Linked DNA regions of Homo sapiens: region 2 is linked to region 1. A link means that fine-mapping ties the variant in region 1 to the expression of a gene that starts in the linked region. Tissue or cell type: lymphoblastoid cells. Region 1 holds a variant in brackets; the other region holds the start of a gene. All regions are shown on one strand. Distances are from middle to middle.

Region 1 (8,199 bases):
CTCCAGCAAGCCCGTCATCTTCCCTTTCCTCCCTTCTGATAAGACTGGAAAATAGTCCTCCAAAACACAAGGGAGGATTTTGGGTGGCCAAAGTGTACAATTTTCATCCCACAATTGAAATTTTTAAATCATTTCATGTTAGTCTTACCGAATAAGGTACCAAGATCACAAATAGTGTTGATCAGATCTTACAAGTTTATGTGGCACACAATCCTATAAATGTGATTTTTTTATATAAGTTAAAGAGACAAATAGTAGGCTAAAAACATTTTAAAATCAACTTTTGAAATTTAAAAATCTTTCAGAATACAATTCAGTTTTAGTTTCAAAATGTTAACAACTTGAATTACAACCGGTTATCAGTTGGACAGTAAGATTTTATCCCTTTCTCTTCTGACTGGTATACCTATTTCATTAGTAGCTAGGTGCACATATACATCTAGCACAGCTGTGAGGACAGACAGAAGGCAAAGTTTCCATGTGGCCTTGAGCAAGTCCCATCTCACCTCTAGGCCTCAGTGTCCTCATCTATAAAATGAGGGACTTCCCTAGAAGTCTTCATGGTCTCTTCCAGCCCAGACATCCTGTGATGTCATGAAAGCACCTGCCCTCTGTTTCCCCTCAGAACACCCTGTACCATCCATGGAGCACGAGGCCTTCAGAAAAGACACTTCAATGGGAGTGAACATTTCTAACTAAGGACAGGATGGCTGTGTGTGGTGGTCACCAGGTCCTGTGAGCAAAGTGCAGGTTATGCAAGTCGCCAGGCAGGAGGCCATTCCAGGAGTGGGATTATTCATCAAACTCTTTGCCCAGTTCATCCCAATGGGGGAAGTATTCCCTTCTTTCCTACTCTGGGAAGAATGTCTCCTGCCACTCCTCAACTGATGATAGACTTCGAAAACAGATGAGAAGACTAGCAGCTAGCAAGGGTGCTTGTGGTCACACTGTGGAACACTAAAGAGCTAGGAAAGAGTTGAGCACAGGCAACATTACAAACAAAGGATTTGAAAACACCAAGAGTACAGGTCTTCTTTAAGGAAGAATAAAAAAGAAGAGGTTCATTTTTCTGGCTTTTTTTTTCACCTGAAACACTTTTTCTCGAGTCCAAAATCATTCCCCCCGTGAAGTCTGCTTACCAAAACATAAGACGACTTATATATTTGAAAGAAGTCAAATGAATGAGCTCTCTAATAGAAGTCCATGAGTTGAGTGGGTATTTCTTATTTGAAAGTGTTTTTCTTTAATCAAAAGTCCTTAGAATGAGGGAAACAAAATATTTATTTGTTTTGGAATCCCACTTATCAAATCATTCAAAACTTTCAGCTGGAGTGGGGTTTGCTTTTGTTTTGTTTGTGTCCATAAGAGAAATGGTAGAAGATGAATCAGTATGAAGACACTGTCAATGAGGTTATGAGAAAAAAACAGCAGGGGCATTAGTTTCAGGCAAGGCAGCTCCCAGGTTTAGAGATTAATTTTTACCCCCTAAGGAATATCCAGTCAAAGACGCTGAGTGGGAGCTGTCAGGCAGTAGCAGCTGTGTTTGAGTTTCTGGCTGAAAATGGTGAAGAATGGACTTAATTATGCTAACAAACTGAAAAATCTAGACATAGATCCTCTGATATACAATTAGAGATATTTTTATATAGACCCCAAGCATTCTGTGCATAAAAGTTAACATTAGGCTGTGGTGCAGTAACCATTTAATGTCGAGGCTCTATTTCGGAAATACACTACAAATGTTAAAGTACGTGGCTGTCCTCTTAAGACACTAGTAGAGCAAAGACTTAATCATATCAACTTAATTCTGTTACACAATATGTGTTTTTTAATATACTAACCATTTCTTATGGAAAGGTCCTGTGGGGAGCCCATCCTCTCGCCAAGCCATCACAGGCTCTGCATACACATGCACTCAGTGTGGACTGGGAAGCATTACTTTGTAGATGTATTTTCAATAAAGAAAAAAATAGTTTTACATTAACATCTTTGCACGTTGTTGTTATTCTTCTCCTCAAAGAAAAATACATTTTCCATTCATGGAAATATTACAATAAGCTCAGGGCAGTCTCTGGAAGGATCCCATGCAGCAAGGTAAAATCTTGGCAGAGCCAGCCACAAGAAAATAAGTAAGGACATGCTCTCCTGCTCAACTCCAAGAACTGGAGCTGGAAACAGGAGGAGGTGAGCGGAGCACTTTGCTGTAGCAGGCCATACTTCCTTGTCCATGTCAGATTCAAATTTCTCAGATGAATTGAATCATTTCCATGTCGGGATTAGAAAAGTGTGATACCACCATGGGCCCTTCCGAAAAAGTAACTTCCTGTCTGACCTCCAAATTAGGTAGATTTATCTCTGTGATTATTACCACCATTTGTGAAAAGAGCTAACTAAGATCTCAAGGGATTTCCAGAAACAGCCATTGTGCTGGTGCTCTATTCATTAAGAACAGCTTACGGATGACTACTTTTCATCATGCTTTTTAGTAAAGAATTCGCAGGCAATATCATGAAATCTCCAGATTGAAGTAGTGTCTGGAGCCTATAATCTGACCCTCTCTACCAGCAGGTGGCAGCCACCTAGAGGAAAGGCTCTTAAGTTGGATCCATGGACCCCTAGGTCATCCACATGAGAGTTCAATAGGTTCATCGCCCTTGAAGTTGTGGGGAAAGTTTTGTGCATTTGCCTTTTTCTGGGGGTAAAATTCTTAATTTCAATCGGTTTCTCTAACAGATCTTACGACTAAAAAAAAAAAAAAATTTACAAATCGCTATGTTTGAACCATACACCCTAACTTTTGTGAAGGCATATGTGGTATTTACATGACCAGTTTGGGAAAAGAAAGGCTGCTCACAAACTGAGGGAACCAAGCCTGGCCACCCTGAGCAGATCAATATTTGCCCCCTGTGAAACGTTCTGGGAAGTGCCGCATAAAATCAATCCACTGCTAGGAAGTGCTCCCTTCTGCCGGGACCATTTTCTTCCCTTCTGCAGCCCACGCTGGGTTTTGGCCACCTCCACAATGCAGACATAAGAAGCAGGTCATCTGCCTGTGGGAGGTCTGTGGAAAGCCCCTTATGGTTAAGGGAAGTGCCTCTCAGCCAGAGTATGACAAAGAGGGTGGAGAAGCAGGCCTTAGATCCCAACATGTGGTAGTCACACATGTGCTCACAAATGGAACTATGAAAAATATGCAGGTTCACAGCTTTTTTTTTTTTTTTTAAGATACAGGGTCTCACTCTGTGATTATGGCTCACTGCAGCCTCGAACTCCTGGGCTCAAGCGATCCTCAGCCTCCCGAGTATCTAGGACCATAGGCTCACACCACCACGCCCAGGCTAATTTTTATTTTTATTTTTTGTAGAGACAGGATCTCGCTATGTTGCTCAGGCTGGTCTCAAACTCCTGGCCTCAAGCCATCCTTCTGCCTCAGCCTCCCAAAGTGCTGGGATTACAGGAGTGAGCCGCTGCACCCAGCCTCTGGCTGACATTTTTTAAAATGTTTCTTATAAGTTATTACATTTAACAAAATATTTAAATCCTACCCTCAGAAGTTAGGAGTCTATGTCCTCCTGTATCCACATTCATCCTGGTACCACCACTGTCCCTTCCCACCCAAGCAAAATTCTCCTTTTCAAGAGAAAAAATCTCACTTTACCTCACTATACCTATAAGTAAAGGCATAGAAAAAAAAGTAAAATCCTTGACTCATCTACACAGTGTTGAAAACAGAAGTGTGAGTTCTGTTAGCTGAACGGGCCTGGAGGAAGCGTGGCGGGAAGGCTGGATCCCCGCCGCAGGGGCTGCGGGGCTGTGGCTGCCTGCGGGCTGGGCAGGGCCGGGCGCACGCCCTCCTTCCGGGTGGCCGCGGGCCCCGACCCCAGGCTGCCGTCAGTCGAGCGGCCTCCGCAGCGGCCGCGCTTCCCCTTCTCCCACCCGGGTGGTCCCAGAACTGGAGCAACAATGGCCGGCTCTGTGTGGCCGCGTCCTGGGGCCAAAGCAGTCGGGACGTGTCACGCCGAGGGAGGGCTCCGAATGAATACGCTGACAATAAGAAGGAAGGGAGAGCGAGGGAGGTGATGGGCAGCGTCCTAGAGGGAAAGCGGGAGATGAGAAATCTACGAGATCCGCGAGGCGGCGTCCGGGGAGCGAGCCTCATAGTGGCCACCAGGGGGAATGCGGAGCTCACCTTGGGCCGCTTCCGCGGGGAGCTCTAAAGGGAGCTGGGGCACTTCCTCTTAGAGATCTCACTTGGGTAACATCGAATTCCAAGTCTGCAGTGCCGAGAGGGAGCAATCTGTGAAAGCCATCAAGTCAGGTTTAAAATTCCTCAGTGCCCCCATGTCACTTTTCCCTCTGTTCACCCTGCTTCTTCAATAGCCTCCCCAGAGGACCCCCTTCCTTTCTGGGTATCCTGTTTTGTCTCCCTTGTGCCTCATCTCCCTTCTCTCCCATCTCCTCTTCCGGATTCTCATCTCCCTCTTCTGTCACTTACATGTTTTGCAGCTACAGACAGGTACTCAGAAGGTGGCATGGTAACG[G/T]TTTCCTGCAGGTCATGTCTCATCGTGCCCACAAAACTGCTGTCTCAACCTTCAATTTTGAAACATTCACAGCATGCTGAATTCCACATATAAGTAGGGTTGTCAGATAAAATACAAGACACACAGTTAAATTTGAATTTCGGGTAAATAACAATGTTTTAGTATGAGTATTAAATAACAATGTGGTGGTGTAAGTATGCAAAATACTGCATGGGGCATCCTGTAATTTTATGTGTTAATCTGGCAACCCTCTAGACACTTGAAATGTGGAACTCAGAACAATTTGTATTTGCTTCAATGAAGCTGATATTATAGGTGAAAGAGGTTGCTTGGAGTGGGGGGATCTTCATTATAAAATAATCACCCCCATTTTGAATTTTTCTCTGAAAGCAAAAACATGCTTTAAAAAGCAATTTAGATCTAACATCTCCTACTATTAATTGTTCTGGTGACATTATCACTTATTATGTGCTTGTAAATCTTGTGGCCATAGTTAAAAAGCTTGATGAATCACCTTTAGGATTTCACAAAACTGTCTTGAATAAATTAAGCAATACCTCAGTTATCCATAGTTGAGATATTTAAGACTGACATCTGCTTTTGTTTTCTTCCCTCTCCTATTTTCTTCTTTCCTTCTCTCACTCCTTACTTCTACCCTCCCCACTGCCCCAACATAAAATATTTTCTGTAATCCATTACAGGGCTGAAAATTTTGGCATTCACATATTGTTCTCCAAAGACGGACACATTTTTTTCATTTGGGGAGCACCTATTAGAAAAGCACCCATTTTTTTTCATATTGTGCTATTCAAAGTTGATTATTTTCCAGTCTCTGTAAAGTTGAGAATGAGGCATTTTTCAGTCTCTTCAGGGAACTCCAGCCTCCATGAATGGGAATCATTCCCAAAAAAAACCCCTTTTTAAGCCAAGTCTGAAGGATATGAAAAAACAGGACCCAACTGACACCGCACAAGGGGAACAAAATCAAATCATAAACTCTTTCCAATAATGACATATGCAAAATCATGTAAAGATGGTAGTGAGTGTCCTAGAAGATGGTGTCAGATGACAACTTTTTTATTTCTTTTCCAACTCTTAGCTTCAGAGGATCATAAGTCCTGGAAGCAGCCAGCCAGGAGCTTCCAGACATAGCTGTCACAGGGGAAAATAAAGACCATTTGGAAGTCAGCTCAGCCCTGCACAATGAACTGATGACTGGCCTGCCCTGGGGAGAACTCAGCACGCAAAGATTTTTGTCGGCAACACAAACCTCTGAATGCTATAACCAAATTCCCCTGCCCTTGGCACTCCAGTGCCTCAGTGAGGCCTTCTTTCATTTAAGCCCATGAGGAGCTGTTAGCTAAAGAAGTGGAAAACAAACATGAGAAAGTCAGCAGGCATGTTAGAAAACTCACATGGCTAGACTAAAAATAGCTTTACGCTTCCTAAAACTTAAAGGCCTTCCGCTTCAGAGTGGTGGTTGAACTCAAACTTCTACACGGGGATGGGTTGAATCCACACTTGTTATACCTGAATTCTTAAGCAGTTCAGAGACCCTGGCTGGTCCATTCCCTGCACCTCAGCATCCTCATCTGTAGATGTGGGGATTGCATGAAACCTACCGTCTCCAAATCAACTTTCATATCAAGTGTCTGTGTATTGGAGGGGATGCTAGAGTTAAAACGCTTAGTTAAATGGTCAACTGCCCTTAGCATATGATAGGTTAAACTTCAACTTCCCTATCGTAAATGGGTATCATAATACCTTCTTTATTATGGTGTAATGAGAATTAAATAGATAATAACTAGATATAAGATTCTCAGCACAGTTCCTGGCACTCAGGGAGATTCTTAAGATGTTCAGAACAACACTGGCTCAGTAGGGAGGAAGAGGCACGGGGTGACGCTGGAGGAAGGGAGAGTGGCTCCCGGTGCCATCTGGACCTGCTGTGAGCTGGAAGGAACTCCCCGAGGAGGCCACAGACCTACATTGCCCGGGGGGGACGCTTTGCGGAGGTCGTCACCCCTGGAAACCGGCATCATGAGACACTGCCAGGCTTCTTCACGGAGGGGCCCGGGCCTCTGCGCCCGGGGCGGCCCAGCAACCCCTGCTCGCCTCCGCAGAGGCCTTTTGTCCCGCGGGCTCTCCCAGCGGCCCCGCGCTGCGTGGCCGTTTTGTGAAGGGCACAATCCGATGTTCTGAGGAGACCACCCAGCTTCCTCTCCCAGAGTCTACCAGAGAACAAAACCGCCCCTTCGTGTGCCAGCGACCTCCCCTTCTGCCAGACCCCCTCCCACTGGCCTCCTCCCTGCCCTGCCAAGCGGGGACGGAGAGCCAGCCGGCCCTGGCCCGGTGGGAACCCAGTTGATGGTGCGCTTATTAGCTGTCCTGAGCGCGGGGACAAACTTTCTGTACCTGGGCCGCTGCTGCCACCCTGCGGCCAAGACCTTTCTCTAGGCCCCGATGACCCAGAGCAGCCCGGACCAGACAACGTGCAAAGAGGAGCGCTTACAGCAAACTCCTCCCTGAGGGGCTCAAGGAAGGCTGGAGAGCCAGGAAACAGTTCCGATGGCTGAAGGAAAAAGGAACTCATGCTCTGTGGCCACAGCACTGATTCTCAAAGTGTGGTCCCACAACCAGTATCAGCATTCCCTGGGAACTTAGAAATACAAATTCTCAGACACCACCCTAGACCTACTGAATCATAAACTCAGAGGGTAGACCCCAGCAATCTGTTTTTTGGTTTGGGGGAGTTTTTTAGAGATGGATCTTGCTGTGCTGCCCTGGCTGAAGTGCAGTAGTTATTCGCGGGCACAATCATAGCGCACTGCAGCCTGGAAGTCCTGGGGCTCAAGTGATCGTCCTGCTAAAGCCTCCCAAGTAGCTGGGACTACAGGTGCATGCCACCTTGCCCTGCCCAGCCATCTGTCTTAAGAAGCTGACCAGGGGATTCTGATGCACACCCAAGTTTGAGAACCACTGGTCTAGACTCTAAAAAGAAACAGACCTCAGAGGTGACAGAGCAGGATGCTAATCCTGGCTTTGCCTATGAGCTGTGTGACCTTGGGCAAGTTTCTTAACCTCTCCTTGCCTCCTCTGATTCCTATCATGATGAAAATCATTCCTAATTTCCAGGATTGTTGAGGATTAGATCAGAAAGAAAGGTGAAGTCACTGACATATATTCGTGCTTGATAAAAGGTGCTTGCTTCCGGTGTTATTATAATGGGGTCATAAATGTGCCCGCATTAACACTAGAATGTACAGAGAAAACACAATTCCTCTTTTCATTTATTTAGCAGGTATTTATGGGATGCCTACTGTAATGGGCAATGTTGATAAAGCCCCTCCCTCCAGGGAGGTACATTTTAATATCTGTGTAATATAGGGTGCTATGGACTGAATTGTGTTCTCCCACCCTTCACCAACATTCATATGTCAAAGCCCTAACCCCCAATGTGACTATATTTGGAGATGAGGCTTATAGGAGGTAATTAGGGTTAAATGAGGTCACAAAGATGGGGTCCAAATCCAATAGGATTGGTGGCTTTCCAAGTACAAGGAGAGAGAGAGAGATCTCTTTCCACAAGCACACACCAAGCAAAGGCCATGTGAGGACACAGTGAGAAGGCAGCTGTCTGCAAGCCAAGAAGAGGGCC
Region 2 (8,176 bases), 85 kb before region 1:
GCAGCCACACTTGGATTTATTTTACATTGTAATGATTGAAGAAGGAACTCATTGGCTTTTTTTTTTCCTTTTAAGTTTGATGTTTACTGACTTCCTTTCTCCAAGTCTTAGAATTGGAAATGGACTGATGAACCCTCTTGTGTTTGTGACTGTGTTGCATCTGTTTATTGGTGCAGCAACTCTTTTCTGAGCACCTTCCGTTCTGGTTCCTAAGTATGCAGTAGTTATCCATACAGGCCCTGCCCTCAAAGACCCTGCAGTCTAGACAGGGAGAATTGCAGCACAAAGTGGTAATGACTCTGGAGATTTAAACCCAGGGGGCCTTGGGAGCACATAGGAAAGGCAACCAAGCCCGTTGGATTTGGGGAGTGGGAGGAGATTAGAGTTGACTCCCCAGAAGAAATAACAGATTGTAGGCCTTCCTTTTAATGTTCTTTCCTTTCTTTTCTATCTGTCTTTAAAAAAACTCCTGGGGGCTTCTTTTGGGAAAAGATGAGAAATCAACATGAAGAACTCTTGTCTTAGCGCTGACTATGATCCCCAGCATATTACTCAATCCCTACTGATCTCCAACATCTGGGTCTACAGGACCAGTAATAATAGAGTAGAATAGACCTCAAAGTATTATCACGAAGATTAAATTAGATAATGTGTGTAGAAGTACTTAAAAAACTATAAAGCCCTGTAAACATGTCTGCTGAAGGCTTCAATTCCAATCAACCTACATAATCTTTTCCAGCTAAACGGATATTCTTGGTTCTACAAAGTCTTGACTCATGTTGAGCAACTGGGGAAAATGTCACTTTTCAATATAAATAATAATTGATAACAATAACATGTGTGAAGCCTTCATTAAAAAGCAGACCCTCTTTAGCTTTAGAATGGAGAAAACATGTTGTTTTTTAAGGCATCATTATGTCCACCTGTTGGATCACTTGTGAGAAAAATAACAGTTGGTGTAATTTCTTGCCACGTGGGAATCTATTTGGGGGGGTTCCTCTTGCTGGTCTTCACCTTTGTGTTGGTGTTCCCTAGGCTTCTGCCCTTGCTCAGTCCTCTTCTGAAACCCCATCAGAGGTCAAAACAGAAGAACTTGCTAGAGCCACATGCTGATAACTAACTTGAGTGAAGTGAGCAGGACAAGTGGGCTGGAGAGTGCACACTCCACCTACAGGAGGCAGCCTTGGCTCAGTGTCAGCCGACCCCTTCAAGGGCCTTGATATTCTCAAATGGTCAGTATTTTTCAGTGTGAATGTGAACTCACCTAGTTTGTAAATGCTCCTCCTGCCCCTTGACTTCCTAACCCAAGTCTTAGTCACTTCAAGGCTTTGCATTTTACCTAAAACGAAAATTACTTCCCTGCTTAAATCCTGTGGCTGGCTCCCCATTGACTAGGAGTGGAGTTCAAGTTGTAAATTCGGCCCCTACTGGCCTGTTCTCCAGCAGGAACCACTACTGGCTCCCTGCCATGCCACACGATGGCTGCTATGGGCAGGCACCTGCTAGAAACAGTGTACACAATGTGGATCCAGGCACAGCCCCTTCTCTTAAGTTGCTACCAGTCTTTTTGACATACTAACTGGTAAATAGGCCTCAGCACACAGCGATCTCATAACCTTCTGTTGGGCCCTGTCCTGGCCCACTGCTTAATAATTACGATGCGTTTATGGACTCCTTGAGGAAAGAAACTGGTATTTGGAACACAGTGGTTGCTCAATGTTTGTTGAAAGAATAAATGAATGTGATAAAGTTAATTTTAGTTCACCTCTCTGTAGTTGGATGTTTTTAGGTTTCATATGACTATAACTTTAAAATAAAACCTAGTTATTTAAAAATTCAACTAACCAGACTTCACCACAGGTTTTTTTGTTGTTCTGCTTTTTACATTCATATTTAAGAAGAAAAAAAAATCAAAACAAAATGGAAGACAACTACCACAAGTTCTTCTACACCTACTGCCTCTAACACATCCACTGTTACACTCTGGGGTTAAGTCAGGTCCTGTTCATTGTCTTAGCATTCTACAATTTCCAAATTCTAGGAGGAGAATTGACATTCATGATGATCCTAAAATGCAAGCTATTTAAACAAGGAATGATTTTAAAACCATCATTAAATTAAAAATCAACTTGGAAAATATTGAAAAAAGATTAAAAGGTTTTCTAATCCATTTTGTTGCTCAAAAAAAAATCCAATTAACCAAAATTTCCTAATTTTGAATGGTGAAGTTTGACTGGCCTGTACCATGCTAAGATCAGCACGTGCTTATTACCGTAATCTCTTGTTCTTCAAACCAATAAATGCTCCCTTTAAGGACAGGTTGGATTTGGTTATTTCTTGTTATACTGACATTTTTTCCCAAAGAAAGAATTTACTGATAACATACTTCATCACACAATGTTCACAGAAAGATCTTGACAGATTTTTTCAGCAGGAACAGCATTTGCTGCTGGTGTTTGTGTTTTTTTCATTTGATAATACTAACATTAATATGATCCCCCAGCTTCTGTGTCTCCCACCCTGAGTAGCTTTAAATGAAATACAGCATACAGAGACTTGTTCATAATTTCTTGATCTTTCATTTATTTAGTGTTTCTAGAAGGAAAAAAAAAGATGTTTTAAAGCTCAAGGGACTTAACTATAAAGTAGAGGGGAAAAGGTAGAAATACGCGTTGAGGAAACCCAGGAGGCCCCCAGGCATGACTTTTGCTATAGCTTTCCAGAAAGAGAAAGTGGTGCTTAAAGAAGTAATTCCCAATGTTTCCCTCCAGACTAAAATTGGATGAACTCTGAACTGAGACTCTTTGCATCTCATTTTCTCATTAGGTTTTATTACAGCCAACAAAACTTTCAGTGGTGAATTACTTCCCTTCTCAACAGAATACCAGACTCCCATAATGTCTACACAAACTGAAATAATGAAATGGTTTTTAACCAAGCTTTAGGGATTAGAGAGGAAAAAAAAAGTGAAAAAGAAAGGGCACCAGGGTCTTCCCATCTCTATGCTAACCAAAGTGTGGTTTTCCAGCCCTTTTTCTTGCCTATTAACAAAAATAAAAACAAAAAATGGAAATGCCACTGGGCTTGAAACCCCATTTAAAATCAGATTTCTCTTTCGAGTTCCCTTGCAATACAAGTCAAAGTCATTTCCACCAAAAAAAAAAAGCGGTGGGGGGGGGGGGTGTGCAAATTAATCCTAAACTCATGGCTCAGATAGGACCTGGTATAGTAAATAAATGCTTTTAAAAGTAGTCATGGCATTGAGAAATGGCTCCATGCACCTAAACCAGAGGCACCAATGTAAAAACTAGTAATTGTGTTTTAACACAAAAGATTGAAAAGCGTTTTGTTTCACATCCTAATATTATTCCACCCACTTAAAAAGAGTTACTTAATATTGACTCTGTATTAGGTATAAGACAAGTTCTTGCCCTCAAAGAACTTATAATTTAGTTGAGAAACCAAAACTTAACATGAGCTTAAAAAGAAGGATGCAGTACAAAACATGGTATAATTAAGTGCTAAACAATGTAGTATAGATGCTCAGTGACCTAGGAGATCAGAGGAAGGGAAGGGTCACTGAGGGCTGGGAATGTCAAAAGCATGTACTTTCAGTAAGTTCTTAAAATGATAGCATGTTAGAAAGCTGTTATAATTGCTGCTGATTTGTAATTTTAAAGCATTGACATGATTCACCATTGCTTTCCAACCAGTAGCTGTTTAAAAGGACATACAGTTGAGGGTGAAAGGAGATATTTCTTTATGATCTCCAGAGATTTGTATTGAGGGGAAAAAAGACATACTTTCTTGTTGAATAATAGACCAAGAATTGAGCATATTTTGCATGGGGAATATTAAATTCAGTGAACAAGAATCCAAACCTCAGGCTGTGATTCTGGTATAAATTTTTGTTTCTAATGAACCATTTTCTTCCTTCTAAAGAAGATTTAAGTTTTGGGAATAAGTCACCTCAAAAAAATTTTTTTTTATTTTCTAATATCTATTTTCACAATTTATTTTTCTTTTAAGAAAAGTGGACTAGAAGCTCAAGTTACCTTCTCAAGGCAATGAGAATTTTTTAGCTCTAAAAAAGTTGTGTGTGGTAGGGAGAACATTTAGCATCCTTTAAAATGGAGACATCTGAACAGCAACCTATCTTTTGAATCACCAAATCTCAAGTGTACTTTGCACTCTTGGTCTTAAAATGCTTTTCATTTTCTAGTTTGGCAAAAATTCCAGTCTCTTTACATTTGCTACCTTTTCCGTCTTTGCAACACAGGCAGTGTGAGCTAAATTAGGTTTGTTAAAATGAAGTTTTGAAGTTTCAACTGCTGAAATAGAGGCATGTCCCTAACTTTAGACAAATTTAGAGAATCGTAGTAAGCATTATTTTTTTTCTACATACTTGTCTGCATTCAGTGTCTTCCCAAGAAACGTCAGTTAATTCCCCGATTCGAAAAAGGAACTTTCTCGTAACAGTTGTACAACCAGGCTAAAGAGCACACCCTCGTCTTCCCTGAAAGGGAGGAAACATGCAATAATGTGAGGTAATTAAATTTAGCCTTAGAAAAGTCTTTGAAACGTTCTAATCAAGACTTTCAGCTTTCCGATTGTGTGCGCTTTATTTTTCAATTCTTCCTAGTCCCGGTTTTGCATTTCTAATGACAGTGAACTGACAAAGCGTGAAAGTGGTCTAAGGAGCAAAACAAAGCCAGCAAGCCTGCTTCTGGTGTGCCAAGATTAATCAATATTCCAGAAACCTCGGGGTTTCCCCCTCCTCCCTGTGCGGTTTCCATTCCCCACTCCTCCTTTCCCGGGCACAGACTCCTCCCCTTTTCTTAAGTTGCCCTGATAGTAACTTGCAGTTTCAGAGCACATGCACACTGTCAGGGCTAGCCTGCCTGCTTACGCGCGCTGCGGATTGTTGCTCCGTTGTACCTGCTGGGGAATTCACCTCGTTACTGCTTGATATCTTCCACCCCTTACAAAATCAGAAAAGGTAAGTGTCACATTCTGTGTTCCTGCTGGGTTTAATTTCTCCTTTCACTTCTCTGCCGATGTATTTTGCCTTCCAAGCAGAGGAGTAGCCTGAATCAAGGCTAGCCATTTTGGTAGATAAAGTCCTTGTTAGTCATCTCACGTCGTGAGAGTGTGGTGTCTGTTTATGCCGGGTCCGCTGTTAATTCGGAGTTGAGTCATTCGGGGTGGATTGGGGGCAGATTGTGGCGCGAGATCTAGAAAAGGATCAAGGTTGAGCGGATCTGCTTAAAAGTGACTGGTAAGAGGAATCAGAGCTATTAGTTTAAAAAAAAAAAAAATCTGGTCTCTCCTATTTCCCGGTCTTCACTTCTCCCTAAGCATTTAATCCAGTGTGAAGTCTTAAACAAATTAGAAGTCTTAGTATCACTGACCCCAACTTGCAATTTTATTTAAAAGGCAAACTGTTAAGACAAGTCTTTTTTTTTCCTGCACTGGGATTGCGAGAAGTCATTTGCGAGGAGTCCTTTGGTTTCCAGTTACCTCCCCCACAGGCGCACACGCTGGCTGCTTGCGTTGGCAGCGACACACATCCATGGTACGGCTGGTTTTCACTCGGATTGATTATGGGAAGGGCTATGGATTAGAGCTCCTGTAAAGCACCAGGAGGAATCCCTTGATTTTTCAGAACAGCTGATTTCCACCAGGAAAGAGATTTACTGAAATGTAGTTAAATAGCGTGAGTGCTTTAAAGAAACCAGAAACCACAAGCTGTAATGTTTGGAATGAAAATTGGTTTCATCTCATCTGTTCTAGAAATCCTAAATTTTAAAACGCTAAAAAGTCAGCGATAGTTTCCTCGGAAGATTCCAGCATGTGTGTCACAAAGAAAAACACTACTTCATACTTCTACTTGTGATAAACGAAGCTGAATTGTGATTTCAGATGATTTATAGATGTGCCCAGAGCACTTTGCTTATTTCATGGAAAAAAAATGAAAAAATTACCCTGTAAAATAGTCACATGTATTTCCCATGTACTGTGGGCACTTGTGTTCTTTTTATGACCATATTTACTAGTAGATATTATTATATTTTTTTCTTAATGAAGAAAATAGCTGGTTACTTTACTGCATGTAACAGAGACAACTCCCACCTATCAGTATCTTAATTATTTTTATTGACCTGGTTATGCTTTCAACCATGTATACAGCATAATTTGTCAAGTAATGATTGAATACTTTCTGTGCATTCAGTTCAATTGGACATTTACTGATTGTGTACGTTGTGCAAGGCATCAGCTGGGTTCTGCGGGGGAGGGTGGGAATAGGGGTTCTCAGTCAGATCTAGCTCTGAAGAACCCTTTTATAGCCTCATTGGAAGGGGAAGGACGGATTTTTAAAAAGAAAATAGAATATATTCCGAATTTATGCACATTTCTCACACGTGGTCCACTAAAATATGCACACTGCAACCTTGAGGTCTGGTATTGTGGCTCTCCAGTCCTTGATTCCTGCTGAGATTATGCAATTTGCCAAGAGCTTGCCTGGTGTGGAGCAGCACTGATTTCTCACCCCTGGAGGCTATAACTCATGTCTCTTTTTCTCCCATTCTAGTTGTGTTTTCTAATACCAAAGAGGAGGTTTGGCTTTCTGTGGGTGATTCCCAGACACTGAAGTGCAAAGAAGAGACCCTCCTAGAAAAGTAAAATATGACTAAAAGCAATGGAGAAGAGCCCAAGATGGGGGGCAGGATGGAGAGATTCCAGCAGGGAGTCCGTAAACGCACACTTTTGGCCAAGAAGAAAGTGCAGAACATTACAAAGGAGGATGTTAAAAGTTACCTGTTTCGGAATGCTTTTGTGCTGCTCACAGTCACCGCTGTCATTGTGGGTGAGTCATTTGATTAAAAACAAAAAAACCTGTATCTTGTTTCTCTGGGGCATCTGGCTGCCCGGGGAATATTATCAGATGAACTAGTTGTAGGTATCAAAATGGTAGCCTAGGCTTTCCTCTGAACTTGATGATTTTTCTCCATAAAAATGACTGTTTTGGCTTGTTTGGAGCAATATATAGTAAACACATCATTAGGCATCATTAGGCATTATGCAAATCAATTGTGTGAGGAAGAAAAATAAATAAAATATTTTCCCATTTCATGTAAGGATAAGGAAGTGATCATTTAATCATTAGGCATGACAAAGCAAGCATGCTAGATTTGGCCAAAATGTAATTATATACAATGTCAGTTGCACTTAAAACTAATTTATACAATTAGTACACCTAAAATGACATGTTGGTTCCAAATAGTAATTATATTCTAACTGGTGCTGACTTGAAGCTGAGTATCAACGCTTAGGCACAGAGACCGAATATTTTATGTGTTTGCACTCTCTCACCCAGCAACTGGGAAAGGTAGATTGGGGAAAATGTTAACACAGATCTCTTTCATTCATTGCTTTGCAGAGCCTGCCATAACCAGCTATACCTTTTTTTGAATCATTTCCATCTCTTACTAATTTAGCAGGGTTGACAGCAATCTGTACTAATAAAATATTATTGTTTTGTTTTGTTTATTGATCTTAAAAGTTATAGTTTATTACTTATGGGTGGCATTGATCCTACTTTAAAATATAGCTGAAAAAACCTACTTATTTGGAATTTTTGACCAAACCAATACAGAAATCCTTAGATTGACAAACATATACGCCAATGCCAGGTTGTAAAAATATTCCAACTTAACCTACCAATTTGCCACCAAAAAAGAGGCATTCAGTACCGTTTTAATCTCTACTTTGGAGTTTGCCAAGATTTCCATCAACTTTAAAGAGGTAATGATTTAATAAAGATTAAGAAAATTCTGTAGTGTGTAAATATAACTTTTTTCAAGAAAATTGAATTCTTAAATTGTAGACAAATGAAGTATAGCAGGAGAGTTTGTCACAAGATTTTAGATACATCCCATTTTAACATCATTGTCTTCCATTAGTAATCACTGGTGATTAATGATGGTTCAATTAATTTAGAGATATTCAAAGAGAACATGTCCTAACTGACCCAGAGAAGTAATGGCTTTCCACAGTAGGTTTCCAGGCTTGAATATATTCCTGGGTGAAATATTTCAGTCCCACATCATTGTCCTGGAAGTCAATGCAAAATACAGTCTGCTTGCCTCATTTGTCACTCTGAATCAAAGTCATT

What was found. PIP is the estimated chance that this variant, and not a neighbour inherited with it, causes the effect.
Region 2: it holds the start of SLC1A3, and the variant in region 1 is fine-mapped to the expression of SLC1A3 in lymphoblastoid cells (GENCORD, PIP 0.95).

Annotation. Positions count from the first base shown.
Region 1 is chr5:36,686,351-36,694,549 of GRCh38, forward strand. It overlaps SLC1A3 (solute carrier family 1 member 3), which reads left to right. Exons shown (of 10, transcript NM_004172.5): 10 at 1-1,984. The region is part of intron 1 of SLC1A3-AS1 (SLC1A3 antisense RNA 1); the gene reads right to left. Among named protein-coding and RNA genes, the nearest start is that of SLC1A3-AS1, 35 kb to the right of the region's middle. RefSeq lists an enhancer at 3,060-3,289 and a silencer at 3,745-3,944. The variant G/T (reference allele first, on the strand shown) is at 4,542.
Region 2 is chr5:36,601,737-36,609,912 of GRCh38, forward strand. It overlaps SLC1A3 (solute carrier family 1 member 3), which reads left to right and starts at 4,870. Exons shown (of 10, transcript NM_004172.5): 1 at 4,870-4,999; 2 at 6,593-6,868. The coding sequence starts at 6,688. RefSeq lists an enhancer at 4,977-5,076.